3 separate regions of the Homo sapiens genome follow, and regions 1 and 3 are each reported to be linked to region 2. Evidence: microRNA targets listed by miRTarBase, many of them from high-throughput screens and not tested one by one. Region 2 holds a microRNA gene; each other region holds the end of a gene's coding sequence.
The links. The annotated mature microRNA hsa-miR-6890-3p reads CCACUGCCUAUGCCCCACAG and lies in region 2 at 2,229-2,248, opposite strand. An mRNA with a match to its seed (bases 2 to 7 or 8) in the 3' UTR can be bound and repressed. Matches are read on the target gene's strand: a 7mer-m8 pairs with bases 2 to 8, a 7mer-A1 pairs with bases 2 to 7 and ends in A, and an 8mer does both.

Region 1: miRTarBase lists PFAS as a target of hsa-miR-6890-3p. The part of its 3' UTR that is shown has no 7-base or 8-base seed match.
Region 3: the mRNA of PPP1R14C is a reported target of hsa-miR-6890-3p. Seed matches in the 3' UTR shown: 7mer-A1 at 4,345-4,351.

What each region holds. Positions count from the first base shown.
Region 1 is chr17:8,267,450-8,274,815 of GRCh38, forward strand. It overlaps PFAS (phosphoribosylformylglycinamidine synthase), which reads left to right. Exons shown (of 28, transcript NM_012393.3): 25 at 1-14; 26 at 102-216; 27 at 1,084-1,407; 28 at 1,505-3,037. The coding sequence ends at 1,815. Among named protein-coding and RNA genes, the nearest start is that of RANGRF, 18 kb to the right of the region's middle.
Region 2 is chr3:49,097,626-49,102,625 of GRCh38, forward strand. It overlaps MIR6890 (microRNA 6890), which reads right to left and starts at 2,289; the gene lies at 2,229-2,289. It overlaps QARS1 (glutaminyl-tRNA synthetase 1), which reads right to left. Exons shown (of 24, transcript NM_005051.3): 6 at 4,794-4,847; 7 at 4,580-4,640; 8 at 4,203-4,274; 9 at 3,995-4,080; 10 at 3,730-3,816; 11 at 2,950-3,049; 12 at 2,755-2,833; 13 at 2,565-2,673; 14 at 2,336-2,466; 15 at 2,136-2,228; 16 at 1,885-2,022; 17 at 1,719-1,806; 18 at 1,485-1,628; 19 at 1,260-1,364; 4 more. RefSeq lists an enhancer at 2,729-3,229.
Region 3 is chr6:150,246,658-150,254,023 of GRCh38, reverse strand. It overlaps PPP1R14C (protein phosphatase 1 regulatory inhibitor subunit 14C), which reads right to left. Exons shown (of 4, transcript NM_030949.3): 4 at 3,632-5,278. The coding sequence ends at 5,204. Among named protein-coding and RNA genes, the nearest start is that of PPP1R14C, 110 kb to the right of the region's middle.

The DNA.
Region 1 (7,366 bases), not on the chromosome of region 2:
TAGCTGGGTTTGAGGTGAGCAGGGTAGGGGGCAGCTGGGGGTGATTGTCCAGCCTCAGCTGCGTGTCCTCCCACCCACACTCCCCCTCCCCACCTTCGCAGGTATGGGACGTGACCATGCAGGACCTCTGCTCTGGGGCAATTGGGCTGGACACTTTCCGTGGCGTGGCCTTCGTGGGCGGCTTCAGCTATGCAGATGTCCTGGGCTCTGCCAAAGGTCAGTGTGCAGGCTTCTGCCCACTCCCTTCCCCCACATTCCTGAAGAGGTGCCTTTAGCCCCATCTTCCTGGGCTGGGGATTGGCCTCTCACTCCACCGAGCTACGAGAGAGTGGGCCCATTCGTTCTGGGCCACATGCCAACAGAAGGCTGGTAGTAAATTTTTAATTTTTTCATTGAAAAAAAGTATATATATACACATATGTAATTAAAATATATATTATTAAATATATATTATTTATATATATTATTTATATATTATTAAAATGTATATTATTTATATATTATTAAAATATATATTATTTATATATATTATTTATATATTATTAAAATATATTATTTATATATATTATTTATATATTATTAAAATATGTATATTTTTAAATATATATATATATATATATGTATTTTTTGAGACGGAGTTTCACCCTTGTTGCCCAGGCTGGAGTGCAATGGCGCAATCTTGGCTCACCGCAACCTCCACCTCCTGGGTTCAAGCGATTTTCCTGCCTCATCCTCCCAAGTAGCTGGGATTACAGGCATGCAAAAATACAAAAATTAGCCAGGCGTGCTGGCGGGCGCCTGTAATCCCAGCTACTTGGGAGGCTGAGGCAGGAGAATCGCTTGAACCCAGGAGGCAGAGGTTGTAGTGAGCCGAGATCATGCCACTGTACTCCAGCCTGGGTGACAGAATGAGATTCCATCTCAAAAAAAAAAAAAAAAGAAAGAAGGAAAGGAAGGAAGGAGGGAGGGAGGGAAAAGGAAGAAAGAAAAAAGAAAAGAAACAGAGCAGTTATGCCCCTTCATTCCCAATTCCCTTTTTTGAGGTCCTCCATGTCTCACCCTGACTTCCCTATTCCCTGCTAGGGTGGGCAGCTGCTGTGACCTTTCATCCCAGGGCTGGGGCTGAGCTGAGGCGCTTCCGGAAGCGGCCAGACACCTTCAGCCTGGGCGTGTGTAATGGCTGTCAACTGCTGGCTCTGCTCGGCTGGGTGGGAGGCGACCCCAATGAGGATGCTGCAGAGATGGGCCCTGACTCCCAGCCAGCCCGGCCAGGCCTTCTGCTACGCCACAACCTGTCTGGGCGCTACGAGTCTCGCTGGGCCAGCGTGCGTGTGGGGCCTGGGCCAGCCCTGATGCTGCGAGGGATGGAGGGCGCCGTGCTGCCCGTGTGGAGTGCGCACGGGGAAGGTCAGGCCCAAGGAAGGCTGGGGGAGGGCCCGAGGGTTGGGGGCAAGGGTGGGCATGAAGGACCTTGGCTCTCACTTCCCTCCTCCTTCCATCCCAGGTTACGTAGCATTTTCTTCTCCGGAACTCCAAGCTCAGATTGAGGCCAGGGGCTTGGCTCCACTGCACTGGGCTGATGATGACGGGAACCCCACAGAGCAGTACCCTCTGAATCCCAATGGGTCCCCAGGGGGCGTGGCTGGCATCTGCTCCTGTGATGGCCGCCACCTGGCTGTCATGCCTCACCCTGAGCGGGCCGTTAGGCCTTGGCAGTGGGCATGGCGACCCCCTCCATTTGATACTCTGACCACCTCCCCCTGGCTCCAGCTCTTTATCAATGCCCGAAACTGGACCCTGGAAGGGAGCTGCTGACTGGCCACAGGGGCTCACCTGGGCCCCATGGCTTTTCACCTAAGTGGGTCCTGCCCCCTCCCCCATGACCTTCAGGAGCACCCCATATTATTTCCAAAAATATCTTGGACAGACAAGGACCAAAATGCCAAAATCTCAGCGGACTCGATAATCTGCCTGCTGATGTTCCTTCTGTGGCTGTGTCTATTTTCAGTTCTGCTCTAACATGGCATGCCCTTTCTCAGCCCAGGAAACAGCATGTGGTTCAGAGAAAAGAGCGACAAGGAAAAGTTAGGACTCCTGAGGTCCGAACAGGGGCTTCTGTTGCCCACTTCACAACACCCAGTGATCACCGGTGTGCAATTGCCTCCTTGGCTCTGAGGGATGTTTTGCGCTCCCTTTTCTCATCATTGGGGTTAGCGGGTGCAGACAAATTCAGCAATAGTATGCAGATCAGCCCCTCACCACCTCATTGTTCTCATCTGGAACTGAAACTTTCTGGATTTCTCTTGAAGTGCTACACTGCACTGAATGTAAGGAATTGTTGCTTGTGGAAGTTTCTCAGCGTTTCTGGCTGTCTTAGGGCTGGCCTCAGAACCCAGCATTCCTGTTATTTGCTTCTAAATTAGCAGCTCTCTTTTTTTTTTTTTTTTTGAGGCAGTCTCACTCTGTCACCCAGGCTGGAGTACAATGGCGTGATCTCGGCCCACTGCAACCTCTGCCTCCTGGGTTCAAGCAATTTTCCTGCCTCAGCCTCCCGAGTAGCTGGGAGTACAGGCACACACCACCACACCCAGCTAATTTTTGTATTTTTAGTAGAGATAGGGTTTCACCATGTCTCCCAGGCTGGTCTCAAACTCCTAACCTCAAGTGATTCGCCTGCCTCGGCCTCCCAAAGTGCTGGGATTACAGGTGGGAGCCACTACAGCTGGCCCAGCAGCTCTGTTTCTGATAGAGGTGGTTGGGGCTCTCATCCCTAGATCCTAACCCTTTAGTATGCTGGAATTCTACTCTTCACTTACTGCATTGACTGTTGTTGATTAGTTATTATTGCAAAGCACTGTCACCGGCCTCAGGGAGTTTATGTGTAATAGAATTAAAAATAATAGCTGTGTATAACACTTAGCTCAAGCCACGCATGTGTGAGGCATTTGGTATGTATCTGAATTAATTCTCACTAAAATTCAGCAAAGGACTTGATAGCCCCTCCCCGCCTTTTCAATAAAGGATGAATGAAGGTTGACTGCATTGCCTGGGGTCCACAGATGGTGAGGGGGGCTGGGCGCACCCATACTACATCTGCTTCCCGCCATCCTGCAGTCTTACTTCCTGGAGGCAGTGTGTTGAGACTTTGTGCTGGCAGCTGTCTGTTGCTTCCTTTGCTCACAGGACTGTGGATAGAGGTCCCTTCCTCATGACTGTTCTGTTGTACACCTCAAGTCAGTTGGCTCCCTAGAATGTTCAACATCTTGATAAAAGGAGTTTGCCTGAGAATGGAGACTATAATCCCAGATCCCTGAGGGCTAGGAGAGCTGGGTGGGGGCGCTGAGCACTTCTGTGTGCTCCTGGTAGAGTAGCCACCCTGAGAAAAAACTGATAATAATGAAACAATGTTAAATGATGGCTATGGGGAAAACAACTATTTCAGAGATTTTTCTCATTGCTTTGCAAAGCGACCTACCCTGAGCAGTATGGGACTCCTCCGGATCATTTTTGACATTTGAATGTTCTTTCCTGACCCTTGGAAAGGATATATGTATGTCTTTCAAATTTATAGTATCGAACATACAATTTGGGGGCTGGTACCAAGGGTTAGATATTAAGTTTATTAAGTGCTTGATGCAAAAGTCAAAGGATGGCATGGGAGGTAACCTGGTTGGCTGTGATAAGTAAACTCGTGGATTTTGAAGGGGGAGCAGTTTCTGGTTTGGGTCGCAGTGGCCAAGTAAGACCCACCCTCCTCAGACACTATCAAGACCAAGTCCACTGGCTTTTCATCCGTGTTTTCATCCAGTAACCAAATAACCCTGTCCTTGCTGACCCCCACCCAGCTCCATTCCCACTCACCCACTCCCAAGGGCCCTCTGGTGAACCTTCCAGGCTAGCTCTCTGCTCCCTCCTTGCCTTCATGGAAAACCAGCTATCCTCTGAGAGCCACTTCTGCAGCCCCTCCAAGTGGTGGCTTTTCTTCTCAAACCTCAACCTCACATATCTCATCTTCCCCAGGCTGGGGAGTCGGGGTCCTCGTACCACTGCCAGACTGTTCACCCAGTTCAAAGAAAACCCTGCCCGTTGCAGGCTCATGCCATTCTACTACATCCCTTTCATCCAGTTCTTTGTGTTCTACTGACTTCCCCAGCGCTTCCTTTGGGAGAAGGTGCCAATTCTTCAATAGTTGATTCCTCTCTAGAAATACAATGTTCCTGCCAGGTGCGGTGGCTCATGCCTGTAATTCCAACACTTTGGGAGGCCAAGGCTGGTAGATCACCTGAGTTTGAGACCAGCCTGGCCAACATGGTGAACCCCGTCTCTACTAAAAATACAAAAATTAGCTGGGTGTGGTGGTGTGTGCCAATAATCCCAGCTTCTCGGGAGGCTGAGGCAGAAGAATCGCTTGAACCCAGGAGGCGGAGGTTGCAGTGAGCCGAGATCACGCCACTGCACTTCAGCCTGGGCAACAGAGTCTGTCCCAAAAAAAAAAAAAAAAAGAAAAAGAAAGAAAGAAATAGAATGTTCCAGGGCCGGGCGTGGTGGCTCACACCTGTAATCCCAGCACTTTGGGAGGCCGAGGTGGGCAGATCATGAGGTCAGGAGATCGAGACCATCTTGGCTAACACAGTGAAACCCCGTCTCTACTAAAAGTACAAAAAAAATTAGCCAGGCGAGGTGGCGGGCGCCTGTAGTCCCAGCTACTCGGGAGGCTGAGGCAGGAGAATGGCGTGAACCCGGGAGGCGGAGCTTGCAGTGAGCGGACGTTGCGCCACTGCACTCCAGCCTGGGCGACAGAGTGAGACTGTGTCTCAAAAAAAAAAAAAAGAAATAGAATGTTCCAGTATTTTAGCTGGGGTTGTGGCTGCTGAAAATAAAGATGACATCTCCCAGCTTCCCTCCCAGTTATGATTAAATTGTGGCCAATGGTAGAGAAAATGATGTATACAATTTGCAAGTGTTCTTACAAGAAGGGTACATTTTCCCCTTTATCCATTCTTGCTTCCTATTGTTTGGAATGCAGACACGACAGCTGGAAGTTCAGTAGCCATACTGAAGTAGCTTTGGGAATTGGTACCATGCAGAGCAACAAGATAAGAGGAAGGCTCTTCCTCTTATCTACTTGGGAGGCTAAGGTGGGAGGATCACTTGAGCCCAGGTGGTTGAGGCTGCAGTGAACTGTGATCATACCACTGCACTCCAGCCTGGGCAACAGAGCCAGATCCTGTCTCAAAAAAGAAAAAAAGATCAAAGGAGACTGGTTCTTCCAACACTGAGGAGTGCCATGAGGACAAGATAACACTGAATGTCTTGAGTGTAGGAAATGAACTTGTGTCTTGGTTTTTGCTTTTGTTTTTCATTGAGACAGAGTCTCTCGCTCTGTCTCCCGGGCTGGAATACTGGAGTACAGTGGTGTGATCTCCGCTTGCTGCAACCTCTGCCTCCTGGGTTTAAGCGATCCTCCCACCCCAGCCTTCTGAGTAGCTGGGATTACAGGCACGTGCCACCATGCCCAGCTAATTTTTGTATTTTTAGTAGAGACGGGGTTTCGCCATGTTGGCCAGGCTGTTCTTGAACTCCTGACCTGAAGTGATCTGCCTGCCTCCATCTCCCACAGTGCTGGGATTATAGGCATAAACCAAAGCGCCAGCCTATCTTGTTTAAGCACTATTAATTTTGGTGTTTTCCATCCCTTGTAACTAAACCTTACCCTATTCAACCACTCCTAACTCGCTCTCATTCTTTAAGGGTATTAGGCCCTGGTTCCCTGTCTTGTGCTTCACTTCAGCCCCTTCTGTTATCCTGTATCCATGTCAGTGACCATCCAACACTCTGAACTTTTCTACAGTGACCTTCATTCCACCTCAGCTAACTATCCCACTTGGATTTTATCACCCAGGATCGGCTCTATCTCCAAACTTATTTATTCAGGCGTCCTGTTTCCAACCATAAGGCTCTATCTCCAAACTTATTTATGCAGGTGTCCTGTTTCCTTCCAACTTTTTTTCTTTTTGAGATGGAGTCTCACTCTGTCGCCCAGACTGGAGGGCAGTGGTGCGATCTCAGCTCACTGCAACCTCCACCTCCTGGGTTCAAGCGATTCTCCTGCCTCAGCCTCCCAAGTAGCTGGGATTACAGGCATGTGCCACCATACCTGGCTAGTTTTTGTATTTTTAGTAGAGATGGGGTTTCACCATGTTGGCCAGGATGGTCTCAAACTCCTGACCTCAAGTGATCTACCCACCTTGGCCTCCCAAAGTGCTGGGATGACAGGCATAAGCCACCATGCCTGGCCCTTTCCTTCCATCTTTCTTCTTTATCCACAATACTCTGAGATTTCAAAGTAATTAGGACCTCCAGTGCAATAATTACTTTACCCCAATCCATTGCTCCTTTTCTTCCCTCCTTATCCAGCTTCCAGTAACAGCCTTTCCAAAACCCCTTCACTTGAGCTATGACCTTTTCATCATACCCATTTGGCAAACTCCCAACCTACCTGCTTTCTCTGAGAAAGCCAGACAGAACAGGTTCTCTCATAAGTTCATCATTAACCACGTATGGGGAAACAGGGAATGGGAAGGAAAAATGGAGATGAAAGGTTAATAAGAAAGTGCCCAAGTGGGCCTTTGATGATACAATGTGCCATGAACCCAGGGTCATGATGACCTTAGTTCTCTAAACCTGAGGTCTAAAAGCAAAAACAATTTACAACAACATACACACCTAGTGATCAAGTCCTTCCTTTGGGTTTCAGCTGGGTCAATAGCGCTGCTCAAATCCTTTGTGAGAGGTTATTTCAGTAGCACCACATACCTCCCTTTTCAGCCCAAGTCTCTGTTGTACTTTATTTTTCACCATTGCAATCAATGAACTGTGAACTGTTTTTGTTTAGAGATGGAGTCTACCTCTGTTGCCCAGGCTGTAGTGCACTAGCGTGATCTCAGCTCACCACAACCTCCACCTCCCGGGTTCAAGCAATTCTCCTGCCTCAGCCTCCCGAGTAGCTGGGACTACAGACACGTGCCACCATGTCTGGCTAATTTTTATATTTTTATTTATTTTATTTTATTTTATTATTTTTGAGAGGGAGTCTCTGTCGCCCAAGCTGGAGTGCAGTGGCGCGATAATTTTTATATTTTTAGTAGAGACAGTTTCGCCATGTTGATCAGGATGGTCTTGAACTCCTGACCTCTTGATCTGCCCGCCTCGGCCTCCCAAAGTGCTGGGATTACGGGCGTGAGCTACTGTGCCCGGCCTGAATTGTTTCTTTGATCAAAGATCTGTCTCCCTGTTAGTGTGTAAGTTCCATGGATAGGAGACCCATTTTTGCTCCCCACCGTGTCCTAATACCTAGCACAGTGCC
Region 2 (5,000 bases):
CTCTACTAAAAATACAAAAAATTAGCCGGGTGTGGTGGCAGGCGCCTGTAATCCCAGCTACTCGGGAGGCTGAGGCAGGAGAATCACTTGAACCTGGGAGGCAGAGGTTGCAGTGAGCCGAGATGGTGCCATTGCACTCCAGCCCCGGGCGACAGTGCAAGACTGTCTCAAAAAAAAAGGCAGCCTTCATACAAAATTTTGTGCCTGGAGTTATCCTCAGTGCCAGTTTCCTCACTAGTAGAATATGAATACCAACTCCCTCAGGTGGTGAGGATTAACTAAGGGAATGTATGCAGAGCACTTGGCACAATGAACGGCAGCCACTGTCACTGCTGCAGATGAGGGCAGGTGAGTAAAGTCAAGCACCTTTCCCTGATGGCTGTCTGGATCCACGGAGAAATATCCAAGACGCTCAAACTGGAACTTGTCGAAGGGTTTTGCCAGGGCCACAGAGCAGTCCACTAATGCTGCATCCACCACGTGTAGTGATGCCTGCAGGCAGGGAACTCAGGCAACCATCCAACCAGGGAGGCCTACCTCCCTCACCCCAAACCTCATGAACCTACCAGGTTCAGGTCACTTAAAAATCCACCAGGCACCTCAGTAGGATCTTCAGGGTTCTTGTGCTGGAATCTGCAGCCAAAGTGAAGGTCATACCCCCAGCTGGGCAGCCATAGCAGGCAATGTGCATCTTGTACCTGCCCCCACCCCAGCTCTGTTCACTCACAGTCGCTCATAGAGGCGAACCTCACACATCAAAGGCTGTGACACCCAGTGAATAAAGGCCTTTGGCTTCTCTCCAGCATCTGCCCGTCTGCAGGTCACCTCCAGACTCTCTACACAACCACTGGGGCCCTGGAAGTGGGGGGAGGGGAGCAGCAATTAGACCCGGGAACCACAACCAGGACTGCAGGCTATACTCACATCTTGGCCCCAGCAGGCACTGCAGTAGGAAGGCTGCAGCTGGCTCTCACCTTGACAACATGCTGCAGCTCAATGACGTAGCCTGTATGCCTCAGGCCCACAGGCTGGCCCCAAGCCAGGCGCTTAAATCCTGGCTCTGGCTCCTAGAGATAGGAAGTGGGGTAGACACATGAGGCTGCAAGGGTCAAACAAGTGGGGAAGCTTCCCTACCCCCGTGTCTGGCAAAGATTGGTTCATCTGAAGCAGGAAGTAGATGGACTGACAGAGATGAGGAGATGAAAGGTTCCCAGTACCAGACTCAGCAGCAAACGGGACCCTCCACCCCCACAATTTACCTCCTTGAAGTCAGTCCTCTCAATGAAGACAATGGGTGCAAAGGGAACCTGATGGAAGCCTTTGGTCTCATCAGCTGGGAAGTTGGGCACCTGGATGTCCAAGGACTATAGCAGGAGACAGGAGACAGGTATGAGTCATACTCAGCATTAGGACCCCCATGCCCAGAGCCAAGTGTACCCCCAGCTACACACACACATGTGACACACATGTTGAGGCAGGCCCACCTTGGCAGCAGGAAAGTTGGTGATGATGACCCGTAGTGACTCCAGCACAGCCATGGCTCGTGGGGCTGTGTCATTCAGCACATCACGCACACAGGCTTCTAGAAGATGTGGCTCCATTGTGGTTTGTGCCACAGTCACTCCCACCTGGCAGGAAAGTTCAGCATCAGTCACAGCTACAATCACAAACTGCCACACTCAACCCCCAATGTATCTACCCAACCTGCTGGGCTATACCCGGGCACAGAAGTTGTTGATGGCCTCAGGTGGGAAGCCCCGCCGTCGCAGGGCCGTGAGTGTAAAGAGCCGTGGGTCATCCCAGTCCCTGTGGATAAGAAGGTGGTGAGAAGGCCTTTGGGAGCATATGCCATTAACCTTTCATAAGCCAAACAGCCGCACCTACCGCACAGCACCAGTTGCTACAAGCTGGAGGATCTTCCTCTTAGAGACAACAGCATAGTGCAGGTTGAGGCGGCCATACTCCCACTGCACAGGGCAATAGACGTCCAGTGCATTGCAAAGCCAGAAGTAGGAAGAGCGTCTGGGGTGGGAGAGTAGGGTTAGCACTGGCCAGCTCTGGAACCAGGCAGAGACCACAGGAAGGGCTGCTGGAATTCCACTGGCCCTACCACCCCATGGACCCAGCTCCCTCACCGGGCCTGGAATTCCTTGGTGCAGAGTGAGTGAGTGATGTGCTCGATGGAGTCACAGAGGCAGTGTGTGTAGTCGTAGGTGGGATAGATGCACCTGTGGGGCATAGGCAGTGGGCCCTACCATCCAGCCCTACTCTGCCCTACCCCATGGCCCATCGCCCTGCTCGGCAGCCCCACCACCCCACCCCATTCTACACCCACCATTTGTCCCCTGTGCGGTGGTGTGGTGTATACTTGACTCGATAGGCTACAGGGTCCATCTTGCCATCCTCCATCACCAGCTTCATCCGTAGTGTGGCCTCGCCCTCTGAAAACTTGCCCTTGCGCATTGCCTGAGGGGAACAAGGACTCAGGCTGTCTCTAAGCACAGGAGCATCTCATTCTCAGCACCTTGGCCCACCCAAACCCAGATGCTCCTCTAGGACCCCACCTCAAAGAGCAGCAGTGACTCCTCCATGGGACGGTCTCTCCAGGGTGAAGGCAGAGTATTATGGCCTTTGAGCTCCTCTCCTCGCTGGTGGCACACATAAGCCAGACCCCTGTGGGGAAGCGGTGTGAGTGCCCAGCATGGCTGTGACCTAGTCAGTCTGCCTGGCTCTACGTCATGGCCCTGGCCTTACCTGCGGATGAGCTCCACAGCCCACGCATATAGCTGGTCAAAATAGTCAGACGCATATGTGACTTTGTAAGGTGTGTAGCCTGGGGCAAAATGAAACAAAGTATGAGCAGCCAGCCACAAACACCCAGTGGGCAGGCCATGGCCCAAGGAGAGGCCCACTAACCACCAGCCCTTCTAGGCTTTGCCTAGTCCATACCTAGCCAGGCTACCATGTCACAGATGGCCGTGAAGAACTTTGCTTCCTCCTTCTCAGGGTTGGTGTCATCAAAACGCAGAAAACAGATGCCATTGTTGGCCTAGGAAAGTTGCACCATCTGTGAACTCCCACATCATCCATCAGCCCCACAATCCTGTTTATCAAACTAGGATATTCACAGAGCACTCTCATGTCAGAATTTTCTTTTTTTTTGAGATGGAGTCTTGATTATCTTGCACCATCTTGGCTCACTGCAGCCTCCACCTCCTGGGTTTCTCCTGCCTCAGCTTCCCAGTAGCTGAAACTACAAGCGTGTGCCACCATGGCCAGCTAACTTTTGTATTTTTAGTAGAGATGGGGTTTCACCATGTTGGCCAGATTGGTTTCGAACTCCTGACCTCAAGTGATCCACCCACTTTAGCCTCCCGAAGTGTTGAGATTACAGGCGTGAGCCACCCAACCCGGACTCATGTCAGAATTAAAAATGTCTTCAAGAGCTTCTCTCACCTTCCTGTATCTAACCTAGCATCTTTCTAAGCCTAGGGACTGCACTGGCAACTCCCCCAAATTTGAACTCACTGACTCCTCAGAGGGAGGGAGCTATTTATTCCAATAAGCTCAATAGATTCCTAGGTATCTGTCACACATGTGGTTCCTTTCCATGGCCTCTGCCCACCTGGGTACATTATTGGGAGCAGACAGCAAGGCAGGGATATGGTATCCACTCATGGGAACAGCAAGTGGTCATCTTGCTTGCCAGGTCCCTAGACACATGCTTACCTTGGCATAGCCAAAGTTGAAATTGATGGCTTTGGCATGTCCAATATGCAGGATTCCATTGGGTTCTGGCGGGAACCGGGTACGTACCTAAAATAAGGGGGATGGGAAAAGAGAAATAAAGTCTGAGCTCAGATGACCTTAAAGAAACAGATGTTCCCTCCCAGGAAGGCCATGGTGATGGGTGAGATGGGGCAGTATGGACGCAGCCCAGGCACTCAGGCAGGTGTTTGATGGCACAAGCTCACATGGCCACATCCCCACACACCTGCCCACCAGTAATCTCCAGGTGCTGCTTTAGTAGATTCATGGTGTGTGGAGTGACCACATAGCCTGGGGTCTTGTAGTTCTCACCTGCCAGGACCAGAATAAGCCTAAGGACCAGGCTGCAGCCAAAGCCTCTGACCCCAGGGGCCTGACTATAGGAGCTGCTGCCAAGATCCAGCCCTCCCCAGGGTTTTGACATGCCCACTAACCAGGCTTGTGGAACTTAAGGGCCTCCCCCCGGAGCTGCTCCATCAGAGACAGGGTCTGGTCAGCAGTCTCGCCTGTGGGGAACAAAACAAGGAAAACTTGTCCTCTAGATACATTTACCATATCCTACAGCCAGAACAGAACTGAGTAGACCCCTATTCCCTCAATTCCAGAGACAAGATATCTAGAGCCAGACATCTGAGGCCTCTCATGCCAGTCTCTGGGCAAAGGGAACAAAAGAAACACCAGGAATCCCAGTCTTGAGACAGAAGTCAGGGTACTGAGTAAGCCAAGGGCCTGAGGAGCCTGTAAGGACTCTTCTGAGGAGGTTCAGAAGTCAGGGAGCTGAATGCTGTGACAGGAGTCTCAAGCTTCTCACCATTCTCCACCACATCCTTTGCCGTCCTCCGGTCTGTTTCTTCTAGCCGAGCTTTTGCCACCTGAAAGAAGCCCCAGGTGCTTCAGAAAATGGCATCAAATTTTCTCTTGGATAGGGTCTTGGGATCCCTGTGGTCAGACACTTCCTTCCCCAGCCTGAAGTCTCACCATACCTCACCTCACCCTCAGGGACTCAGGGCCATGCCCATCCCTACCTTGAACTTCTTCTCCAGATCAGCCTCCAACTTGGGGCCCAGAAGGTGGAGGACCTGAGCAGAGACCAGAATCAGGCAGAGGCAGGAGTATCCTCTTTCAAGGAGCCCCTGACTGATCCTACCCACCAACCCAAGGCTTCCTGGCCTATCTACCAGCACTGACTGAAAAAACCTACCTAGCCCATCCCATCTCTTCTCATGTGGGTC
Region 3 (7,366 bases), not on the chromosome of region 2:
TTTACCCCCTGTGCTTGCTGGAACTAATTACCTCCTAGAATCCACTGGAACAAGGTGAGCCCAAAGAAGCCCACCCCGCTAGTTTCATTTACACCCCACCAAGGAGACTGAGCATGAAGAAAACACACACCAGACACTAATCTGCCCTTATTTATCCAATTGACTCAATAAAACAACAGAAAAGCAGGTTTCTCAAGGACTTCGTTTGTAGCTGTTCTAGTATCAGTCTTATTGAAATGTCTGCTAATGTGTTGTGATGGGAACACCCACAGAGACACGGGAGGCAGAGAACAATCCAGTCTTAAAAGAACAATCCATCCCCAGGCAAGATGTTCCAGTCAGCAAGAGAGAACTGGTTGGCCTTCATGGCCGCACAAGAAGGCTATTAGTGAAGCATTTCCAGCATTTGTTTCTGAGTGGGGTTGGGTGGGAACTCCATGAAGCCTGCACTGTTCTTTCTCACTCATAGAAGACTGAGAAGCCACTCCATTTTCACAGGCAAATTACAAACACACAGTGGGTTGTACCCCAAGCCCTCAAGGAAATGAGACTAGTTCTGAGGAATAATTCTCCAGGACTATTTGGGTTAAAATTAATTCAAGCAAAGAGAAACCAGTAGGGGAAAATAGTGGTATGCTTGTGTCCAATTTGAAAATGGCTTTCAGAAAGTTCCAACTACCCGATAGGAGTTTTGTTTTCTTAGACAACAGACAAGGGTCCCTGCCACCCACAGCACTTCTCTCTTAGGCTATGCAGCAGCACTGAAGCGTGCTGACTCCTTGACTCTGAGCACCCAAAGACAAGAGTCAAAGGAAGTAGATAGGGGCCATAGAGGGACAGATATGACTCATGACTACACAGGCTCACTCTCAAAGTGGCTAGATTCCAGGAAAGGTTCCCAGGAAGCAGAGGGAAGCCCCAGAACCTTTCACTCAGAGGCAAAAATAGGGTGGCTGAGTAGGGATGGGGATGTGTCCAGTAGCTGTGGACCTGCCACTCTCTTGCTAAACAGCAGTCATGTCAAAAACAGCTTAGGTTTCCAAAAGCTGATTTTGCACAGCACACAATCTTTTATGGAGACTTTAGGTGATTGTCTTAGGCTGTTTGTGTTACTATAAAGAAGTACTTGAGGGCAGGCAATTTATACAGAAAAGAGGTTTATTTGGCTCGTGCTTCTGCAGACTGTATAGGAAGCATGGCACCAGCATCTTCTTTTGGTGAGGACCTCAGAAGTTTCCAATCACGGCAGAAGGAGAGCCGGCTTGTTACATGGCAAGAGAGGACGTAAGACAGAGAGGGGAGGAGGTGCCAGGCTCTTTTTAACAACCAGATCTAGAGGGAACTAAGAGTAAGTACTCACTCAATCCCAGGAGAATGGCACCAAGCCATTCATGAGGGGTCTGCCCCCATGACCCAAACACCTCTCACCTCCAACACTGGAGATCAAATTTCAAAATGGGATTTGGAGAGGACAAATATCCAAACTATGTCAGTGATAAATAAGTAAAAACCTGTTTAATTCCTGTGTTTCAGGAATTGAAAATCACCTTGTCCTGAGCTGCTCTTTCTCAGGAAACTGATGGCTGGATACTCCTTGCTCAGCTGCTAAGCCCAAGTCCAGGAGCTTTATGTTATGGGGAAAAGGCAAGAGGACTCTGGATAAGGAGGGCCAGCATCACAGGGCCTGGCTGCACTGCAGATGGGGAGCAGGGAGTCCCTCAGTTCCCAGGAGTGAGGAAGAGCCCCACAGGTGGCTGGGATCTCCTCCATCCACAAGGCCTCCTCCCCTACCCTGCCAGCTCAGGGACCTGGCTCACTTTAAATGTGGCTTCTGGGGTTCACTCTTGTGAGTGGGACTAAGAGTAATTCCCTAAGAGTGGCAAGAAAGTCTAATGGTTATGGGACTTTGGAGCCAAATAGGTTTGGGTTTGAATCTCAGTGTTGTAGCTGTGTGGACTTAGGTAAGCTGCTAAGCCTGAGTTTATTTTCTTATCTGTAAAATGAGAATGCCACCTGCCTCATAAGGTTAAGGTCAGGATTAAATGAGATAAAGCATGCACTTAGCACAGTGCTTTTATTATGATCGTTATAAATGGAAGCCACTCCATGAAGTTTACATTGAGATTTCCCAATGTTCAAGTGAGCGCGGCACTAGAAGTTGGATAATTTGGAGCCATTGCCCTAGTGAGAAGACTCTGTATGAGAAATAGTGAGTGTGCTAATACCACAGCTGCCACCTGCTGTAATAGCATAAACATGGAGAGCTGAGGTCAGGCTAATGCATCTGGCCATCCAATGGCACAAGAGTGACCCAATGGCCCAGCGATGCGCAAGCTGGAGAGCTTGAAAACAAACACCCCAGCTCTTGTCCTGGAGACGCTGATTTAACTGGTCAGAATTGACTGAGGCCTAGGCTTCCATTGTTTTTAAAGCTTCCCAGTGATTCAAATGTACACTCAGATCTAAGAACCACAACTCTAGCTGGGAAGAAAACAGTGGAGTTTTCTTGAATCTTTTGTCATTTTCATTCAACTGGCAAACACACAATCTCTTTGATGGGCCAAGCCTAGGACCAGATGCTTGGTGAAGTCCAGATTCCCAGCCTCGAGGATCCCAGATTCTAACAGAAGACACCAACAAATGGATAGGCAATAATGATACTGTGGATGCGTCTATGACAGAGTATAGGCTGGAGCTGAGGGGGAACACACCTAGGAGGGGGTCTAACCCAGCTCTCTGGATACAGCCTGTTGGCAGAGGGGGCGTTCTGGGCCAAGGCAACAGATTTTACAAAGCACCAGAGAAGAAAATACATAGAACACGCCAGAAACTCCAAGGAATTTGGCAGAACTGGGCATGAGCACAAGGCCAAAAGATGAGGTGGGAGAGGCAGAGACAACATTTCTCATAAGGCATGCAGAGGGTTCGGGTTTCAAGCAGGGGGTGGAGTCGTCAGACTATTCTAGCAACTGGGTGGAGGATGGATCAGAGGGAGACAAGCCTGGACATGGAGAATCTGTTCCCAAGGTGGTGGCAGCAATCCAGGAAAGTTGGACATGGGATAGGTTTGAGAAGTATTCACAGAGGACAAGCTGGGTGACTGGGAGCATACTGGGGAGTCAAGGAAGAGGCCCAAACTTCTTGCTGAAGCACTCACGGGGATCAGGGCAGGAGGGAAGGTGGGGAGGAAGTGTGTGGTGGGAGCAGAGGCCTTTGGAGGAAAAGTCAATTCTTACTTCATCTGAGACCATCACATGGGCTGGTCAATTAAGCCTAACAGAAATCCTGCCCATTCTGTATTTTTCCGACTTCCATGGTGCAAGGCATTCTAACAAGTGGAATAGTTTACTAATTTGAAATGTTTTTGAGGGTTCTTGTAAGATGGCAAAGAGGAGTTTTAATTAAATGAAAGGAGCATGGCCTAGGACAGTGCCAGGCTGAGCACACAGAGCTCGTCTTCTTTCTCAGCCCAAGAATGTGGCCCAGCTCCTTTGCTTTCACCACCTGATCTGAAGATGCCTGAGGAGAGGGCCAGGATTACATGCCTAGAAATCCTTGAAAATGAAATGAAACGAGGTGAGGTGCTTGGTCCTCACCTCTGCAGAGAAACTGACACAGCAAAACCATCATGTTAACGTGTTGTGCAAGCCACACATGTCAACAGGCTTGTAAGCAGCTCCATTTATTTGAGTAAATATCTTGTAAATAAATCATTGGTAAACAATACAAAATTAAATACATTTTCAAAAGCTTGCCAGTATACGCAAAATTCACAAACATAGTTTTTTTAAAAAATAAAATATGTTCAGAGCACCCTTGATATAAAATGCCTGACCCCCATCCTTGGACAAGGCCACCTGAAGACATCTTATGGTAGGTGGGTTTCTGTGGGAGTCAGCGGGGGCCTCCTGGAGGGAAGGGTTTCTACTCTCACCTATTACCCATCCCACATTCCATCTGAATTTTGATCCTTCTCCAAAGAGCTGGTAACTGAGAGGGCTAGAGCACGCCACCAGGCCTAGCTCCAAGCACGGGGATCAGGGTGCACAATTAGGGCCAGGAGCACCCAGAGTCCTCAACACAAGCCATTGAGAGAAGCCAGAAATGCAATCTCCACACTTCCAAACCAGCAACTCAGCTCCTAGAGCAACTGTCTTGAGAGAATGTGAGGCTTTCTCACCTTGACACTTAACACTCGGTTTACTCCCACTGGTCTGATACTACCCAGGCACAGAAGCTACCAGAACCTATTTCTAAGGAAGAAGACACTCGATCTGCTAACTTTCTTTTGATCTGCTTTCCTGGAGAGAGAATAAACACAGTACTCGGTGGAAAGCAGACAATTCACTGCTACACAGTGCTTCCTTTTTCCAATGCAAAATACCACTGAGATAGTGTGGATATTTCTCTAGAAATCAAGTTAGTTCTTCAAATTAAGGGTTCATACAACTTTAAAAGACTACAAAATGAGACAATAAGCACATGACCTGGCAAAGCATCCCAACCAATGAAATAATAGAAATTCCATAAATTAAGCCCTTGACCAACTTAACATTTCTGTGGTGTAGTGCATTAAAATAACGGATACACTGAATTCTTTCACTTTGGTGCATAAAGTGAACGTTGAAGTCAGCAGCACTCAGTGAAGAATGCCTAGTGGCCTCTTGAAAACACATGTGCTGGGACCTCCAGTTAAAGGACAACCACAAGTTTATTCCATCCATGTGAAATAAAACTCACATCAACATTTTAACTTAGTTGTGTGTAGATATATACAAGTGTGAGAAATTTGACAGCTGAGTCAAATGTACAACTTAAGAAAAAAAATATTACCAAACTACTTGTAAGAAAACTATCTTCCCTGTATCATAAGGTACTGAACATCTGAGTCCTTGCAGGAAACGCAGCCTGGCGTGGCCCTTCCTTGAGTGTCCACCTCCTTTGATAATCCTTGGTTAGGCTGTGGCTAGAGTCATGATATCTTTGCTATTAAAATATTACATTAACAAAAACCTTTAAAACCAAAAAAAGAACGCTCTTGAATAAATGTCTAATAGACCCCCCCACCTTCACACCAAAAAAGAAAAAAAAAAAAACAAAAACGTTGTTCATAAGGACACCTATTCTTTCACAAAAGTCTTCATGAAGTACAAATCCCAGGACTCTTTCTTCGTCTCTGGGAGAGTTTCACCCTGTTCCAGAATCATACACTCTTCTTCTGCGGAGGGCTCAGTTTCCTCATGCCTCTTATCCGAGAAAGCAGCTCTTTGATAAATTCCTAAAAGAGATCAGAAGAAGTTAATATGAGGGTCACTATTAAAATTCTGTGTTTAAAAATCTGCTTAAAGTAATTGATGTCAACTGCAGTTAACCTTAGTTGATGAATTTGGTTGAATGTGTTAACCCCCACTGGTATAATACAGGATTTTTAAAAACAAATCAAGAATACTAAAACTTCACACCACAATGCCTTCTTATTGTTCTACTTTCTTTACGGGGGAAACCAGGCTACTTTCACTACTGACATGACCTACTTGGCCCCTGAGGCATTTGTGTTGAGATCAGAGCTATTTAACATTACCATGCAAATAAATTAACTGGTGATCTCACAGATTCTGAGTGAGCCTGTCCAGGTTGGGGTCTGAGATTCTGCATTTCCAACTAGCTCACAGGTGATGCCAGTGTTAGTCCTTGAACCTCACCAAGAATGGCAAGGCTGGACTAGTGTGCCTCAAATTTGAGTGTGCATCAGAATCACCAGGGGGACTGCTATGGTTTGAATGTGTCCTCCAAATTTCATGTATTGGAAACTTAATCCTCAAATTAATATGTTGATGGCATTTGGAGGTAGGGCCTTTGGGAGGTAGTTCGGATTAGATAAGGTCATCAGAGTAGGGCCCCCAAGATGGGACTGGTGACTTTATAAGAAGAAGAAAGTCCTGAGCTGGCACACACTTGTCCTCTCACCATGTGACAACCTCCACCATGACATGACGCAGCAAAAAGGCCCTCTCCAGATGCCAGTGCCATGCTCTTGGACTTCCCAGCCTCCAGAACTGTGAGCTAAATAAACCTCTATTATAATAAAATACCCAGCCTGTGATATTCTCTTACAGCAACAGAAAATTGACTACTAAGACAGGGACTCATTAAGGACCACACAGTGCTGGGACCCACCACTAGTGTTTGTGATTCAGTAGATCTGGGTGGGGCCCAATAAGGTACATTTCTGACAAGCTCCCAGGTGACACTGATGCTACTTATCACTGGAGAATACTGCACACCACTGGTGTAGATCACACTAAGAGTCTTTGAAGTTTTTTGACAGCAAACTATAGATAAAAAAACCACACCAAAACAAAAACACACTTTATGTTACAATCCGGTACCTACAAACACACATCTGAAATTAAAACTTACAGGATACTTACTACATGCCATGCACTCTGGTATTTCTATTCTACTCTAATTTCATTTACAAAGTAATGCTAGGGAAGACTCACTAAAAGGATTTCATGACCTGTAAATCGATCAGAACCTAAAGACTGAAAAATGATCCAGAATGGTTCCCACTTTACACAATCAGGAATCTCTCATTGTTGCCTCCTGTTTTAAAATGTTTGGCCACCAGATAAGTCATATTTATTAGGTAACAACTACCTGGTCTTCCTGTTTTATATTTGTCAAATACAAAGCTAACAGCCAATCAGACTTTCTGATCAGCAAGCGACAGTCAGTAAGTGACAGAACTGAGCACATCAGGGACTATCTGAGAGCAAAAACACCGAGGAACTTTGCTGTCCATGGAGCCATCTGAAAAACAGCTCTCAATCTCCCTTATCAATTATAATCCTCACTCATGAGCTCCCAGACTAAATGAGCCCTGCACTACTCTCTGGCTATAAAGCACAGTAACCCTAAATATTTAATATTATATTAGCACCAAAATTTATTTTATGAATAATCTTTTCCCTATTATAAAAGTAATATGTGTTTTTTCTAGAAAACCTGGAAAATACAACCAGCAACAATGCAGTCCTCAGAATTAACTGCTATTAATATATTTTCTTCTATGGATATTGAAGAAAATATATTGTTTTCACCTAATTAAGATCATACCATATAAATATATCCTTTTTCTTCACCTAGCATTATGTCAGATGCTTTTTCCCACATTAAACAATCTTCCTAAAAATTAATGTTAGTGGTTATATAATCTTTTTGTAAGGATGTTATACAATCTGCTTAATTCCTCCCACCACTGGATATTTGGATGGCTCCTGACTTTTCAAAATTATAAAAAATGCCATAACTAATGTCTTTGTACATAAATTTTTGTCTGTAGCTTGGATTATTCCCTTTGGAG